2 linked regions of the Homo sapiens genome follow. The protein of the gene in region 2 interacts with the protein of the main gene of each other region in a biochemical or structural test. Each region holds a gene or a part of one and is shown on either strand. Other genes may lie near its edges. The genes, in order: GJC1 and CNST.

Region 1 (8,051 bases), on a different chromosome or scaffold from region 2:
CTCCCAAAGTGCTGGGATCATAGGCGTGAGCCACTGTGCCCAGCCCACTGGCCTTACTTCTTCTTTTTTTGAGACGGAGCCTTGCTCTATACCCAGGCTGGAGTGCAGTGGCACAATCTCCACTCACTGTAACCTCCAACTCCCTGGTTCAAGCAATTCTCGTCTCAGCCTCCGGAGTAGCTGGGATTACAGGCATGCGCCACCACGCCCAGCTAATTTTTGTATTTTTAGTAGAGACGGGGTTTAGTGCTGGGATTACAGGCGTGAGCCACTGCACCTTACTACTTCTTTTTTTTTTTTTTTTGAGTTTTGCTCTTGTTGCCCCAAGCTGCAGTGCAATGGCATGATCTCAGCTCACTGCAACCTCTGCCTCCCAGGTTCAAGCAATTCTCCTGCCTCAGCCTCCTGAGTAGCTGGGATTACAGGCATGCGCCACCACACCCATCTAATTTTTTGTATTTTTAGTAGAAATGGGTTTTCACCATGTTAGCCAGGCTGGTCTTGAACTCCTGACCTTAGGTGATCTGCTCCCCTCGGCCTCCCAGAGTGCTGGGATTACAGGCGTGAGCCACCGCGCCTGGCCAACTGTCCCTACTTCTAACGGCATGGATTAGTTTTGCTTGTTTTTTTTTTTTGTTGTTGTTGTTTTGTTTTTTTTTAAACGCGGTCTTGCTCTGTAACCCAGGCTGGAGTGCAGTGGTGCAGTGGTTCAGTGGCACAATCACAGCTCACTGCAGCCTCAACTTCCCCAGCTCAAGTGATCTTCCCACCTCACCACCTCAGCCTCTGGAGTAGCTGAGACTCCAGGCACATGCAACCATGCCTGGCTAATTTTTGTATTTTTTGTAGAGGTAAGGTTTTGCCATGTTGCTAAGGCTGGTCTTGAACTACTGAGCTCAAGTGATCCGCCCACCTTGGCCTCCCTAAGCGCTGGGATAACAGGCATGAGCCACAGCACCTGGCCAGTTTTGTCTGTTTTTGAAGTTTTTGTAAATGAAAACTTTTGTGAGATCCATCTTATGTGTAAATGTAGATTGTTCATTTTCATTGCAGCATAATGTACGTAACACAATTTAGCCATTCTACGGTTGACAGGCATTTTGGGTAGTTTCTAGTTTTTTGACTTATTATAAATAGTGCTGCTATGAATACTCTAGTACAAGTATTTTGGTGAACATTTGTACACATTTTCGTGGAATTGCCATGGAATTCCAAAGGCATAGTGTATTCATAGGTTCAGCTTTAGTAGTGTAGTGGCGGAAAGGTGTGACACCTTTCCTCATCCATCATAAGGATCACAGCTGACACTCCTATAACAAAACCCAGATTAACAAGAGAAGGGCATAACCAAGTTATTTAACCAAAGTTTTATGTAACACAAGAGACTTCGGAAATTAAGACCTCAAAGGGCCGAGTGCGGTGGCTCACACCTGTAATCCCAGCACTTTGGGAGGCCTAGGCGGGTGGATCACGAGGTCAGGAGTTCAAGACCAGCCTCACCAACATAGTGAAAACCAGTCTCTACTAAAAATACAAAAAAAATTAGCCGGGCGTGGTGGTGTGCGCCTGTAGTCCCAGCTGCTTGGGAGGCTGAGGCATGAGAATCAGTTGAACCTGGGAGGCGGAGGTTGCAGTGAGCCGAGATCATGCCACTGCACTCCAGCCTGGGTGATGGAGAGAGACCCGGTCTCTCTCTCTCTCTCTCTCACACACACACACACACACACACACACACACCCTCAATACCCTAGAACAATTGTTTTTATGCTTAGGTTCAATGCAGAATGGACAAGCAGAATGTGATCAGACAAAAGGGGTATGATCTAATTTAACAGACTGAGCGGGGAACCCAACAAGGCTTGTCGGTTCAAATTCTTCTTGGCTTCCCAGTGTAACATTCCTTCCTCCAGGGTATTCCTTCCTGGTTCCTCTGGAATGAGGGTCTTCAAGGGGGAGGAGAGAAGGGGGAGAGTGACCTTTCTGGTTTTATGGCTTGCTTTGGGGGAGAGGGGTTCTAGTTTCTATGACCCGCCTTGGGGAAGAGGAATTTTTATTTCTATGACTCGCTTCAGGGGAGAAAGGGGCGGGAGACAGGAGGGCAGGAGAAGGTCAGAGAGAGACTTTGCTTCTGAGGCCTTCCAATCTCCTTTAGTTCAAAGCACTCAGCACGCCAAAGCTCCATACTTTGGGATATTGTTTTCTTTCTTTCTTTTTTAAAGAGATGGGGTCTCGCTCTGTCTTCCAGGCTGGAGTGTAGTGGCATAATCATAGCCCACTGCAGTTTCCTGAGTAGCTGGGACTACAGCCACCACGCCCTGGGAAATCATTTTCTGAGCCTCAACAGTAGATATTGCCAGTTTTGCAAAGTCCGCTGGGCACGGTGGCTCATGTCTGTAATCCCAGCTCTTTGGGAGGCCAAGGCGGGCAGATCACTTGAGGTCAGGATTTGAGACCAGCCTGGCCAACATGGTGAAACCCCCTTTCTACTAAAAATACAAAAATTAGCCAGGCATGATGGCGGGCACCTGTATTCCCAGCTACTCCGGAGGCTGAGGTAGTAGAATCTTTTGAACCTGGGAGGCGGACATCGCAGTGAGCCGAGATCACCCCACTGCACTCCAGCGTGGGCGACAGAGTGAGACTCTGTTGCAAAAACAACAACAAAGTGATTTAGGCCAGGCACGGTGGCTCATGCCTGTAATCCCAGCACTTTGGGAGGCCGAGGCAGGCGGATCACAAGGTCAGGAGATCGAGACCATCCTGGCCAACATGGTGAAACCCTGTCTCTACTAAAAATACAAAAATTAGTTGGGCGTGGTTGCGTGCGCCTGTAGTCCCAGCTACTCGGGAGGCTGAGGCAGGAGAATTGCTTGAACCGGGGAGGTGGAGCTTGCAGTGAGCCTAGATGGCGCCCACTGCACTCCAGCCTGGCGACAGAGTGAGACTCTCCCTCAAAACAAAACAAAACAAAAAAGTTATTTGTACTAGTTTACAGTTGCAGGCTGTGAGAATTTTAATATTTTATTCAACAGGTACAATGATGTTGTTTCCTGTGTTATTTTAGTTACATGCTATTTATTATTTCCAGGTATTTTCAGAGTTTTCACCCTGGTCATTTTATTTTTTTCACTTATTTTTTTGAGACAGGGTCTCACTCTGTCGCTCAGGCTGGAGTGCAGTGGCGCTATCTCAGCTTACTGCAGCCTTGACCTCCCGGGCTCAAGCGATCCTCCCACCTCATGCTTGGAGTAGCTAGGATCACAGGTGCGCGTCACCACACCCGGCTAATTTTTGTATTTTTTGTAGAGATGGGGGTTTTGCCATATTGTCCAGGCTGGTCTGGAACCCCAGGGCTCAAGCAATCCGCCTGCCTAGGCCTCCCAAAGTGCTGGAATTACAGGCGTGAGCCACCGCGCCCATCCCACACTTGTCATTTTAAATACATCTGTAGAGAGGCAATGTGATAAGGCGTGGGGACAGACTACAGCAATCACAGGGAGAAGTACTTAAATGCTCCGAGGCCAAGCAGGTCATGAAATGATTTAAGCAGCTGAGTGGGGACATTGCCTACCCGGACAAGGTGACTCAAGAGGAGCTGCCATGTGAAAAGAGAAGCTCAAAGTAAGCAGCTTTTGACTTTTTAGGGAGGCCAGAAATCTGGATTTTAATATTTTGGTAACTAATTCATATTTTTGGAAAACATACTGGCCACACAAAACTGGTCAGTGCATTAGATGCCTAGCCTTCAAGATTTCCACTCTGGGGCTACCCCTTAGGGCTTGGCTTTGGGTGGGGGAGTTTGACTTGCAGCAAGTAACCTCACTTGTTAGCGCTTAATTTCCCCTCTGGTCAAAAGGGCAAAATAATAAAAGCCTGTCCATCGGCATTCTGATGCTCAGATGAGATCATTCCAGAGGTCGCCCATCTCTTTACTGAGCCTTCCTTTATTACCCAAAGTCTTACTCTACTTAAAGCATTTGGAGAATTTTCGGTTTCCTACTGGGCATTTTAAAACTGGGGATTCCTATGCATGAAAATTTTTCCCAAGTCCTCTGAATGGGATCCTGCTGGGATGCAAAGAGTTAAGAGGAAATAGCCTATTAGGGTCTTGCTAATCCGAGAAGTTCAGGACCTGAAAAGTATCTAGAGCACTGCTAAGAGCCCCGACTCTAGCTAGATCCACGCAGGGCCCGCCAGATCCTCGAGGAATTGTAGAGCAGAACCTGGGAGGAGACATTAGCATCCCGTGCTACAATGGACCAAGGCCTCGGCGGAGCGCGCAGAAGACAACTCTGGGCCCGCTAAACCAACCCAGGATACCCAGGTAAGGCGAGAACCCACGGCGCCGTTAGCGGCCCGCTCAAACTGAGGCGCGGCTGGCGGGGGACTCTCGCCCGAAAATCAGCTTGGAAGAATGAACTGTCCGGAGCGAAGTCTGCGCCCACCCGGGGTCCAGACTCCACGCGGGTGACTCCCACGCGCGCCGCGCCTCCGCCGCGTCCCGGACTATCCGAGAGAGCGGCGAGGACTCGACCGCGGAAAGTTGGCGCTCGCGTCGCTTCCCGCGCGTTCTGGGGCGCCCCCCTCCCACTCGAGCGCCACGTGCCGCGCGCCCCCCGCTCCCGGGCCGCGGCGGGACGCCCCCGCCCCCACCGCAGCGCGCAGTGCGCAGGCGCCTTCCCGCGGGTCGCGGCGGCGGGAGCGGGAGGCGGCGGCGGCGGCGGCAGCGGCGGGAGCGGCTTCTGCCTCGGCTGGAGACTGAGGCGAAGGCGGCAGCGGCGGAGGAGGTGGAGGAGAGGCGAGGGTGAAGGCGATGGCGACGCGGGGCACATGAGGCCGCGACCGGCGGGACGGGCCGAGGCCCGGCGGAGGAGGCGGCTCCGGGGGAACCCGCCGCCGGGTGAGGGGCGGCCGCAGGGCCGGCTGAGGAGAAGCGGGCCAGGGGCGGGGTCCCAGGGGGAGGCGGGAGAACTCTTGGGGAGCCCGGGGAGGGGCCGAGGAGAACCTCCGGAGGTCCGGGGAGGAGCGCGGCCAGAGCGGGAGAAGGAGGGGGGCGCCGCCGAGGGGTTCCCGCCGAGTCCGGAGGGGCGTCGCCGGCCCGCGTCCTGCCACTGTCCCCGGCGCACCCTCCCTCTTTGTCCCCAGGCGCGCGGCTCCCAAATCGGGAGGGAAACGGCTCGGGGGTGTCCTGGGCCGCGGAGGTGTCGGGCGACGGTCGGGGAGCCCGGACAGAAGCGGCGCGCACTCGGCGGCGCCCCGGCGGTGCCGACAACTACCCGGGCGGTTAGGGGCGCAGGGCGGAGCCGGGCCGCCCCTCGCCGCCCGGGCTCTTCGCGGGCTGCTCTTTGTCTCCCCGACCTCGATCCCTGCGTCTCCGGCGGCGTGCGGGCTCGTCTGAGGCTTCCCGCATCTCCCCGCTGGAACTCCTGCCTCCCGGGGGTTAGAGGAGGGTTCGTTCGAGGGCTGGAAGCGGGAAAGCGGGGCGGAAGGACTGGGCTCATCGCCTCCTGATTAACTCGTTGTCTTTACTTAAAATGACTTTTCCCCCACTTTGTCAAACTTGAGAACTGTTTTGTGTGTGTGTGTGTTTCCTTAAGTCTCTAGCTTCAAAATTAAGAGTAGGCGCTACCGCTGTGATTGTGGGCAGTTGTGTGGTTGGCGGCTGCGTTTGGAGCTCTGAGTTGAAAAGATGTACGTGAATGTATGGTTTAGATTTTGTTCTTTTTTTTGCGATTGTCTGATTGGGAGTACTTTTCCTTTGCGAAATGGGCGAATTTGGTTTTCTTTTTGTTCATTGAGAACTGGCAGTGATACCGATTTCATTATGCTCATGCTTAATTTTGTTAGCATCAAGACGATGTGAAATCGAGTAAGTTAAGTTTGAATAAGTTCAGGCTGAGGGTCATCTTGTATGCCTGATAAGTCTAAATTTGTTATATGTTTGTGTCGTGTATACGTTCAAGTGAATATATGTGAAAGCGCTATAAAAAATCAAACTACATAAATGAAAGGGATTTTAATTTCCTGATAAGCAGGAAACAGCATATCTCCAGTACTTTAATATCTGTAGAAAAATGCGTTAATAATGTCATTTAGGAATAAAATATTTCTCTCCCTAGAGAGGGTTTAGGTATTATTCAGAGTAAAAGAGCAAAAAAATTTCAACCTCAGAGGGTATGGAAAAAAACAGAAAAATACCCTTACTTCCAGAGCTCCTGATTAAAATATTGTGAGTTGTGGGTTAAGTTTACTGATTTAAAAAAAACTTAGCATAGAGTTGTATCACTGCAGTTGCTTTGAATGTCTTAAGTACTGTGTAATGTCAGAATTAAACACGAACTAACTTTTCTGGGTAGAAGGTAAAAAGCTCCAATAAACAGATCTTAGTTTTCCCCAGATTTTTGTGCCCAGAGTGCTGTAGGCAAAGGGCATATTGAAGAGATACATAGAAGTTGTATGGAAGGTCTGTTAATATTTGTCCTGATTTGTAATGGCTTAATATTATTTACTACTTAAACTGTTGTGCATTTTTCCAAAGCATTTCAAACAACCTCTTCAAAAGCCAGCACTTTTAACTTTTGAGGTTGTGTGACTTAAGAATTGTTTTCTACCAGAAACAGTTCTCTTAAAAAGTTCTACCACAGTTCTCTTAAAAAGGAGCAAAGGACCTGGTAATTTTCTCTGTAATCAATTCATGCAGGTAAAATTGAGTTTTAGCCTTTAATCCAGAGGACTTAATTAACATATCTCCAGCATAACAATCTTACTTATAAATGCTGTTATCCTTTGTCAATTAAATTTTATTCTTATATTTGTATAAGTCAGCCAAAGGGAAGGAATGCAGGGTTGTGTTTCTGATTAGTCCACTTCCCCCCAGGTCCAGGCTTGCCTATCAATTGAGTAATGAGGATCTTAGAATACAGGATATATAATTTAAATCCAGAGCATCGTTCTCTTAACAAATGCTTAGTGTTTGTTCCATGCCTAATTCAATGCAAAGTGATGAGTTCCAAAAAATATTGCTTTATTTGTTGTATGTTCACATTTCAAAATTGGTGAGGTGTGTTCTTTTTTCTTTTTCCTTTTCCTTTTTTTTTTGAGATGGAGTCTTGCTCTGTCGCCCAGGCTAGAGTGCAGTGGCTGGGACTACAGGTACCCGCCACCACGCCTGGCTAATTTTTTTTTGTAGTTTTAGCAGAGATGGGGTTTCACCATGTTAGCCATGATGGTCCCGATCTCCTGACCTTGTGATCCTCCCGCCTCGGCCTCCCAGAGTGCTGGGATTACAGGCGTGAGCCACCGTGCCCGGCCATCCTTTTTTTTTTCAAAGACATTGCTATGATGCCCAGGCTGTCATAGTACACTGCAGCCTCAAATTCCTGGGCTCAAGCCATCCTCCTGCCTCAGCCTCCTGAGTATACCCAGCTAATTTCTTTTTTCTCCTCCTTTCCTGTCCTGTCCTGTCCTTCCTTCCTATAGTTAAGTTTGACTAGGGGGTATGATTACTTATTTCTGAACTTATGCTTTTCTTGTAGTGTAGAAATACATGTGGCTTCTGTTCAAAATATTTGATAAAAATTTAGGCAAAGAAAAAGCAGGAATTTTTTTTTTTTGTTTGTTTGTTTTTGAGACGGAGTTTAGCTCTTATTGCCCAGGCTGGAGTGCAATGGTGCTATCTTGTCTCACTGCAACGGTGCTATCTTGTCTCACTGCAACCTCCGCCTCCCGAGTTCAAGTGATTCTCATGCCTCAGCCTCCCAAGTAGCTGGGATTACAGGAATGCCCCACCATGCCCAGCTAATTTTGTATTTTTTAGTAGAGACGGGGTTTCACCATGTTGGTCAGGCTGGTCTCCAACTCTTGACATTAGGTGATCCGCCTGCCTCTGCCTTCCAGAGTGCTGGGATTACAGGTGTGAGCCACCGCACTCGACCAGATTATTAGTTTTGTAAGACCGTTCCTTTGAGAATAGGTATGAGAAGATAGATTTTGGCTGATATCGTTAACCTGAAATTTAGACATAGAAAACAGTTCTGAGCTGTTAATATCAG
Region 2 (7,993 bases):
GTGCTTTCCTCTTGCTGCGAAGGTCCCCAGGAGATGTTGGGTTCAGAGGAAGTGGCTCTGGTTGCCTATGGGCAAATACTACACCAGAGGTTACACAGGATAGAGACCCAAGAGGTGAACAGGAGGGAAGTTTTAACTTATTTTGACATAAAATTGGCAAAAATAAGCATCACCAAATTTCTGTAACTAGAAATTGAGGATAAAACAGAGGAGGTTTGTCTATGATGAGGATGTCCATCACAGTAGAACTTGTGAATAGCTTTTATAGAACCACTTAATATAGTACCGTCAACATTTTACATATTTTACATACAATTTGAATACAAATTCTTAAAATTTATAATAGAACATTAAAATAATCTTCTAATAAAATCAGCCTTAAGTATAAGGAATCTAAATTTCATTATCTTGTACATTTCTAAATAAATATCTTTGATCTATAACCCTTGAAAATATTACAGTTTATGGTGACATGATAGAGACAAGTCAAACAGTATTATAAGTGAAAATGAAACATCAATTTAAAATGAACAAGTGTAAAAACACGCGGAACTGAAATTATAGAAAATCAAAACACTAAATACACAGTAATTAAATATCTAGCACTGGAATCACCAAATGCATGCGCAGTAACACACTTTCAACTGATATAAAAAGCCCTTTAAGATTCACATAATCTAAATAAATAAGCAGAAACACAAAGGGAGGTACTGTGCCAGCCAGTAACAACTAGAAAGTAAGTTCTCCCTTTTTCTTTCAAATGATCCTAACAGAAGACAGGAAATAAAGATCACTTGTTAAAAACTATAATTCATGTTTGGTTTTTCTTTGTTGTTTTTTTTTTAATGCTGCCCGATAAAGTCAAAGCAAGGCTTCCTAAATGTTAGACCACTACACCTCAGATAAGGAAAGGCCACCTAACGGACAGATTTAAACAAAAATCAGACATTTGTCTATGGAAGGTATGATTGAATTTTTGCGTAATGACCCCGCAATAGGATCTAAATCAAGCCCACAACAAGAATGCACATTCAAGCATCTGAATGCATGATCTGTTAATACTGAATTCTATATGGTGATTTCACTCAGCAAAGTACTGGTTTATTCTATATAAGACCAGGATTAAAACACCTACAGTGGGAACTGTATCTTACTTAAGTTTGCATTCTGGTTCTCAGAATCTCAGAACATAATAGGTGTAAGCGTTTGCCAAACTGAGTCCAGCATTCATGATTTCAGGAAGCTTTGCATCCGTGACAAAACTGTTGCCTGAGACTCAGGGGAGCTTTTTCTTTGGTCTCTAGGCCTGTGATTAATTTCTGGCTAATCAAGTTAATTGACACAGATCTGTCACAGTTTCTCATTGCAGGGTCAAGAGTTCTAGAATTCATCTATTCCACAGTTAAGCCTTCTCCAAAGATTTGTGCCTGCACATCATCATCAAGTTAAAAGAAGAAAGATCATCTTTGTGATGTTGGGTATTTGCTTATGTTAACTGCCGGAAGCACATGCGCACGCACACACACGCAAACACACAATCACTTCATAAGTGGAGAACAGAAGTGAAATAATACGCAAAGCCTAAATTACACAGCTCCCAAGTTAACTAAAGAATGACACTGAAACCATAAGGTAACTCCTTCTGATTACACACAAACTTATTGCGTGATGGCGGAAAGCAACTTCTATGACCCAACAAGTGTAAACCAAAAGTGTTCTTTAACCATTAGCTTGACAAGGTAGCTAAAAATAGTGTGGTTAAGACTACCCTGTTTAATTCTGCTCAGTGTACCTCATGACATTAGGAGGCAGTGAGGAGGAGATGGATATGCTCTCTCCAAAGACCATTCCTTCCATCCACAATGCTTAGATTGATATTTGCCTCACTGTGTGGATTATTCTAACAGAGTTCCTCCGGCTTGCCACTTAAAGTTGCTATTTCTGATGTCCTTGGTTCCTAACAGAGGGAAGGGGGAATGCTACAGAATTCCTGAAAGAAAAACTGTTTAGAAAGTCTCCCGCCTTTCACTCTCACTGCCAGCATGTCTGTGTCTGGAATGCTGCTAGGAGAGGTAGATCCAGTGCTTCAGTTCTGCCACTCCCTGAAGTAACTTAGTGTAATAGAAGTCCATGTTGTCTGCAAAGTCAGTACAAACAGGTGACTCCATGTCACCGAAAGTGCAGTATAATGCAGTTCCTCCAACACTGAGGAAAACCGTTGCTATGCACAGCAAGACCAGCAAAATACAGGAGCCACCTCCAACTTCATCTGCAAACATGAGAAAGAGTGAGGTTACATTGTCACCGAAATGGAAATCTTAGCATCTGCTGTCTTTTCACTAATTAAGATAACTACACATTTCTACTGTTGGTCCTCTACGGATAGGAAGTATTGACAGAAAACTCATGCTGCTAATGACTCTACAAAGACCTACCTATTAAATACCAAGAAGATTCAGACTTGTGGAGCTTGTACAAGCTAAAATTAAAACTAGCTCATTTATACAATGGACAGAATCACTCCATGAGAAGAAGAAAAACAGCTCACGTGCTCATAGCACGCATTAATGAATTCATTCATTTTTGTTTGTTTTTTAGAGACAGGGTCTCACTTTGTCACCCTGGCTGAAGTGCAGTGGCAAAATCTTGGCTCACTGCAGCCCTGACACCTGGGCTCAAGTAGTCCTCCTGCCTCAGCCTCCTGAGCAGCTAGGACTACAGGCCTGTGCCACCATGCCTGGCTATTTATTTTTTATTTTTTGGTAGAGATGGGGTCTCACTATGCTGCAGAGGGTGGTCTTGAACTCCTGGCCTCAAGTTATCTTCATGTCATGGCCTCTCAAAGTACTGGGATTACAGGTGTGAGCCAGCATGCCCACCCCGACAGCATTATTTGACAGTCTACAGTACAGCCTGGCTGTTCTAAGATCCTTGGGGTTCACATAATGGGACTACCTGAGAGCAAAGTCGACTTAATATTAAACAATAAAAATGCCTTTGGGTGGGATCTCTTTTGCATCTTTCTATATTGAAGAAAACAATCATTCTTTGGTTGAAAAATATCTTAATTATTCATAATTTAAAAAAAATTTTAATTTCAAAAAGACCAAAAAGTCTTCTGATCTGCAGCATGATTAAAGTGTAGGAATGCCTTTTTGGAAGGTAATTTGGCAGTATCTATTAAAATTTAAAATTAATTTATCCTACAGACTGGACAATTTTGAGAGTAAAAGACAGTGTTAAGGCTGGGTGTGGTGGCTCACGCCTGTAATCCCAGCACTTTGGGAGGCTGAGGCGGGCGGATCACGAGGTCAGGAGATCGAGACCATCCTGGCTGACACGGTGAAACCCCGTCTCTACTAAAAATATAAAAAATCAGCTGGGCGTGGTGGCAGGTGCCTATAGTCTCAGCTACTCAGGAGGCTGAGGCAGGAGAATGGCATGAACCTGGGAGGCGGAGGTTGCAGTGAGCTGAGATCACACCACTGCACTCCAGCCTGGGCCACAGGGCGAGACTCCTTCTCAAAAAAAAAAAAAGAAAAAAAGACAGTGTTAACTGAATGCAATTCCGGGACAACAGGTGTAAACCAGGACGGCCTCAGGCCACCTGGGACATATAGTTTCAACATATCCCAGCAAATCCACCTTTAAGAATTAGGCTACAGTTCTGCACAACAAATATCATATATACAAGCTTGTTCACTGCAGCAGGGTTTGTTATAACAAAAGGCTGGGAATAACTTAGTGGTTCTGGTTACAATGGAACAGTTAAACAATTATGGGACATTTATATAATGGAATATGATGTAAGTATTTAATAGAATGAAGTAAATTTAATATGTTCTTTCATTGAAGGATGTCTAAGACTCATGATTTAATTTTTACTTTATTAAACTGATTTTTTTCATAATTAGCATATATTTTTACAAGAAACAAATTTTACAAAACCTAATGGATACCAAATAGACTTTATTTAGAACATTGTGCAGTAATACATGAATATATTCTCCCTGTAAAAACGCAACCCCAAAAGCATCTTAGAGTCTAAGGGACTATCCGTTTTTCTCCCGCCCAATCATATTTCCTTCCCATCCCAGAGGTAAACACTGTTAAATTTGGTGTGTGTCATTTCAGATCAAACACGTATGATTTCAGGACTTACATCAAAATAGGATTAAAAAATTGTTTGCTCTGAAATTTACATTTTAAAATAGTTGTTTTTTTTTTTGAGACAGAGTCTTGTTCTTGTTGCCCAGGCTAGAGTGCAATGGTGTGATCTTGGCTCACTGCAACCTCTGCCTCCTGGGTTCAAGCAATTCTCCTGCCTCAGCCTCCTGGGTAGCTGAGATTACAGGCACCTGCCATCATGCCTGGCTACTTTTTGTATTGTTATAGAGATGGGGTTTCACCATATTGGCCAGGCTGGTCTCAAACTCCTGACCTCAGGTGATTTGCCCGCCTTGGCCTCCCAAAGTGCTGGGATTACAGGCATAAGCCACCACGCCCAGTCTAAAATAGTTTATACCTATGTATGAAAATATGTCTTTTATATAAATGAAGAAATAGGATCATATTAATCATGCTGTATTTTTTTGGACAGTTCGGTCTTGTCTTTCTTTTTTTTTTTTTTTTAGACATAGGGTTGTGCTCTGTCACCAGGCCACACTCACTGCAGCCTCAACCTCCTGGGCTCAAGCGATCCTCCCATCTCAGCCTCCCAAGTAGCTGGGACCAAAGGTGCACACACCACCATGCCCTGCTAATTTCTGTATTTTTTGTAGAGATGGGGTCTTGCCATGTTTGCCCAGGCTGGTCTCCAACTCCTGGCCTCGAGTGATCCAGGAGGAAGACTTGGGAGGAGGCTTCCCCAAGTGCTGGGATGACAGGTGTGAGCCACTGCACCATGCCTTACGTGCTTTTCTTAACATGATTCCTACCCCCACTTCATCTATGTTAACAACCTAAAGTATTTTTCTTCATTATCATATATTCAAATCCAAACATTTAAATATAGCTTAAATATGTAAAAGCATCTATGCTGTTTGTTTTATTTATATGTCCTAGACCTGTCTGAGCTGTACTGTCCGATGTGAGCCACAGGTGGCTGTTGGGCACTTGACATGTAGCTGGTCCAAACTGAGCGGCGATGAACACAGATTCTGAATACTTAGTGTGAAAAAAAGGATGTAAAATGTCTCACTAGTAATTTTTTCATATAGATCACATTTTGAAATAATTTTTATGTACTGGGTTAAATAAAATACATTCTTAAAATTCTGGCCAGGTGCGGTGGCTCACGCCTGTAATCCCAGCACTTTGGGAGGCCGAGGCAGGCAGATCACCTGAGGTCAGGAGTTCGAGACCAGCCTGGCCAACATGGTGAAACCCCCTGTCTCTACTAAAAGTACAAAAATTAGCCAGGCGTCGGGGAACATGCCTGTAATCCCAGCTACCTGGGAGGCTGAGGCAGAAGAATCGCTTGAACTCGGGAGGCGGAGGTTGCAGCGAGCCAAGATCGCACCACTGCACTCCAGCCGGGCGACAGAGTGAGATCCCGTCTCAAAAAAAATAAAATCAAATAAAAAATAAAATTCATCTCACCTGTTTCTTTTCACTTTAACATGGCTACTACAAAGCTGAAAATCATACATGTGCCTCACATTAATTTCCAGGGGATAGCATTGGCTTACAGAAGGAAGAACAGGCCCTTTTAGGAAGATTTTGGCAGAAGGTGAGGTTTATGAAAACACCGTGTAAGTCACAGAGCTTAGGAACAAACCAACACAATCAACATTTACATTTAGTTTTATAATTCTCAAAATGAATTTATACATATTATCTGACACGCTTTTCAATAGGGACAGAGAGGCAGATGTTATTCTCCTTATTTTAAAGATGATGGAACTCAGTCTCCTACAAGTAAGTGACTTAGTTTAAGATGAGGTGGCTACAAAGTGAAATGCAGACTGTGAGTTTCAAATCCGGGGTTCCTCCTATTAAGGAACGATTTGGTCAAATTAGTGCAAACAGAAGTGAGCACCTTATCTGGAGAAGACTGTGAGAGTTACAAGCAAGGTGCAGAAGTAAAATCAGGGGTTAGGACATTATTTCTAAGGCCCCCTAACCAGCTTTCTAATTGTAAAAATGCAGAAACCTCTACTGTTATCACTTATGTCACACCCAGAAAGCATACCTAAATATTTACACTGTTATTTTAACAATGCAGTTGTTTTATGAATATGAGAAGCCCACTGACAGGTTCTGGGTTACCTTTCCATTTACTCTTATTTACTTACACCTTAGATAAACATATTTGCAACCATAAAAGGCAGCATTGTTCACTACAAAACTCACCACCTCATGTTAGACCAAGTCAGGGCCTTAAGTTTGACAGGCCCAGGACGAAGAAGTCAAACAGCAGCAATGGTGTAAAACTGCTGCTCTCGAGAGACACTCTTTTCTATCAATGAAGAGGAAATCACTGAAGAGAATATTCATAAATATTTTCCACAATAAAGGAGGAGTATTAATTGTCCACTGAAAAGAAGACAAGCCGGGCATGGTGGCTCATGCCTGTAATCCCAGCACTTTGGGAGGCCGAGGTGGGTGGATCACTTGAAGCCAGGAGTTCGAGACTAGCCTGGCCAACATGGCAAAACCTCATCTCTACTAAAAATACAGAAAACTAGCCAGGGCCTGGTGCGGTGGCTCACACCTGTAATCCTAGCACTTTGGGAGGCCAAGGCAGGCAGATCCTAACCTCATGAGGTTAGGAGTTTGAGACCAGCCTGACCAACATGGTGAAACCCCGTCTCCACTAAAAATACAAAAATTAGCCGGGCGTGGTGGCATGTGCCTGTAAGCCCAGCTACTCAGGAGGCTGAGGCAGGAGAATTGCTTGAACCTGGGAGGTGGAGGTTGAGGTTGCAGTGATTTGCGCCACTGCAATCCAGCCTGGGTGACAGAGCAAGACCGTCTTAAAAAAAAAACAAAAAAACAACAAAAGACAAAAATAGCAGACTCACACAAAAAGTACTAAAGAGGGAAACTGAACTAAGCTCTCAACATTAACTGTCTATGGAACAGGGAGGCCACAAGTTGAATTTTGCAGCTTGCTCACTTATTTAAGCAAGTAAAGATTTAGAAATGATTTAAGATGATAGTTGGATTTTATATGTTTCTCCCTTAGAAGATAAAGCAACTAAACTGACATATTCTTTTATTTACTTATTTATATTTATTTTTTGAGATGGAGCCTCGCTCTGCCACCTAGGCTGAAGTGCAGTGGCACGCTCTTGGCTCACTGTAACCTGTCTCCCGGGTTCAAGCGATTCTCCTGCTTCAGTCTCCTGAGTAGCTGGGATTACAGGCGCGTACCCCCACACTCGCTAATTTTTCTAATTTTAGTGGACACAGGGTTTTGTCATGTTGGTCAGGCTTGTCTCGAACTCCTGATTTCAAGTGATCTGCCCGCCTGAGCCTCCTAAAGTGCTGGGATTACAGGTGTGAGCCACCGTGCCTGGCGGACATAGTCTTTTACAAATCCTGTTAGTAAACGTCACATCATTCACAAACTCATCCTTTCAGCAAACACTGAGCATCTATCCTGCTAGCCACAGTGCCAAGCGGTTTACCTTGATCCAAGCTATCGTCTATTTCTTGGAATCTCACTCTTCGCTTAGATGGTTTGTGTTGCATTTGGGCAGGATGATCTCCTACAGTATCATTCCTCTTCTTTAATATGGAGACCAATCCTTCAGTAGGAACAACCTGTCAGAAATTATAAGAACCTATAATTCTTTTATTAAGGCGGGACATCTCTACATGTAGCTATAAAAAGGCTCATTCAACAGATATTTGAATTTTTATTACAGGGGTATCCAATTCCTATAGAAAAAAATAACATCAAAATCTAACAGAATAAAACTTTCACTTCTCTGCAGATGACTGAGAAACACAAAAGTCCAAAACCCTGGTTTCCTTTTTTAACCCC

The links.
Region 1: the proteins of CNST (region 2) and GJC1 form a complex in vitro, tested with the Homo sapiens proteins (one study listed by BioGRID).

The regions. Positions count from the first base shown.
Region 1 is NC_000017.11:44,826,911-44,834,961, reverse strand, and holds the start of GJC1 (gap junction gamma-1 protein), read left to right. Parts: upstream 1-4,674; 5' UTR 4,675-4,900; intron 4,901-5,137; exon of another isoform or gene 5,138-5,450; intron 5,451-8,051. UniProt on the Homo sapiens protein: One gap junction consists of a cluster of closely packed pairs of transmembrane channels, the connexons, through which materials of low MW diffuse from one cell to a neighboring cell.
Region 2 is NC_000001.11:246,659,976-246,667,968, reverse strand, and holds part of CNST (consortin), read right to left. Parts: intron 7,771-7,993; coding exon 7,635-7,770; intron 2,270-7,634; coding exon 2,064-2,269; 3' UTR 1-2,063. UniProt on the Homo sapiens protein: Required for targeting of connexins to the plasma membrane.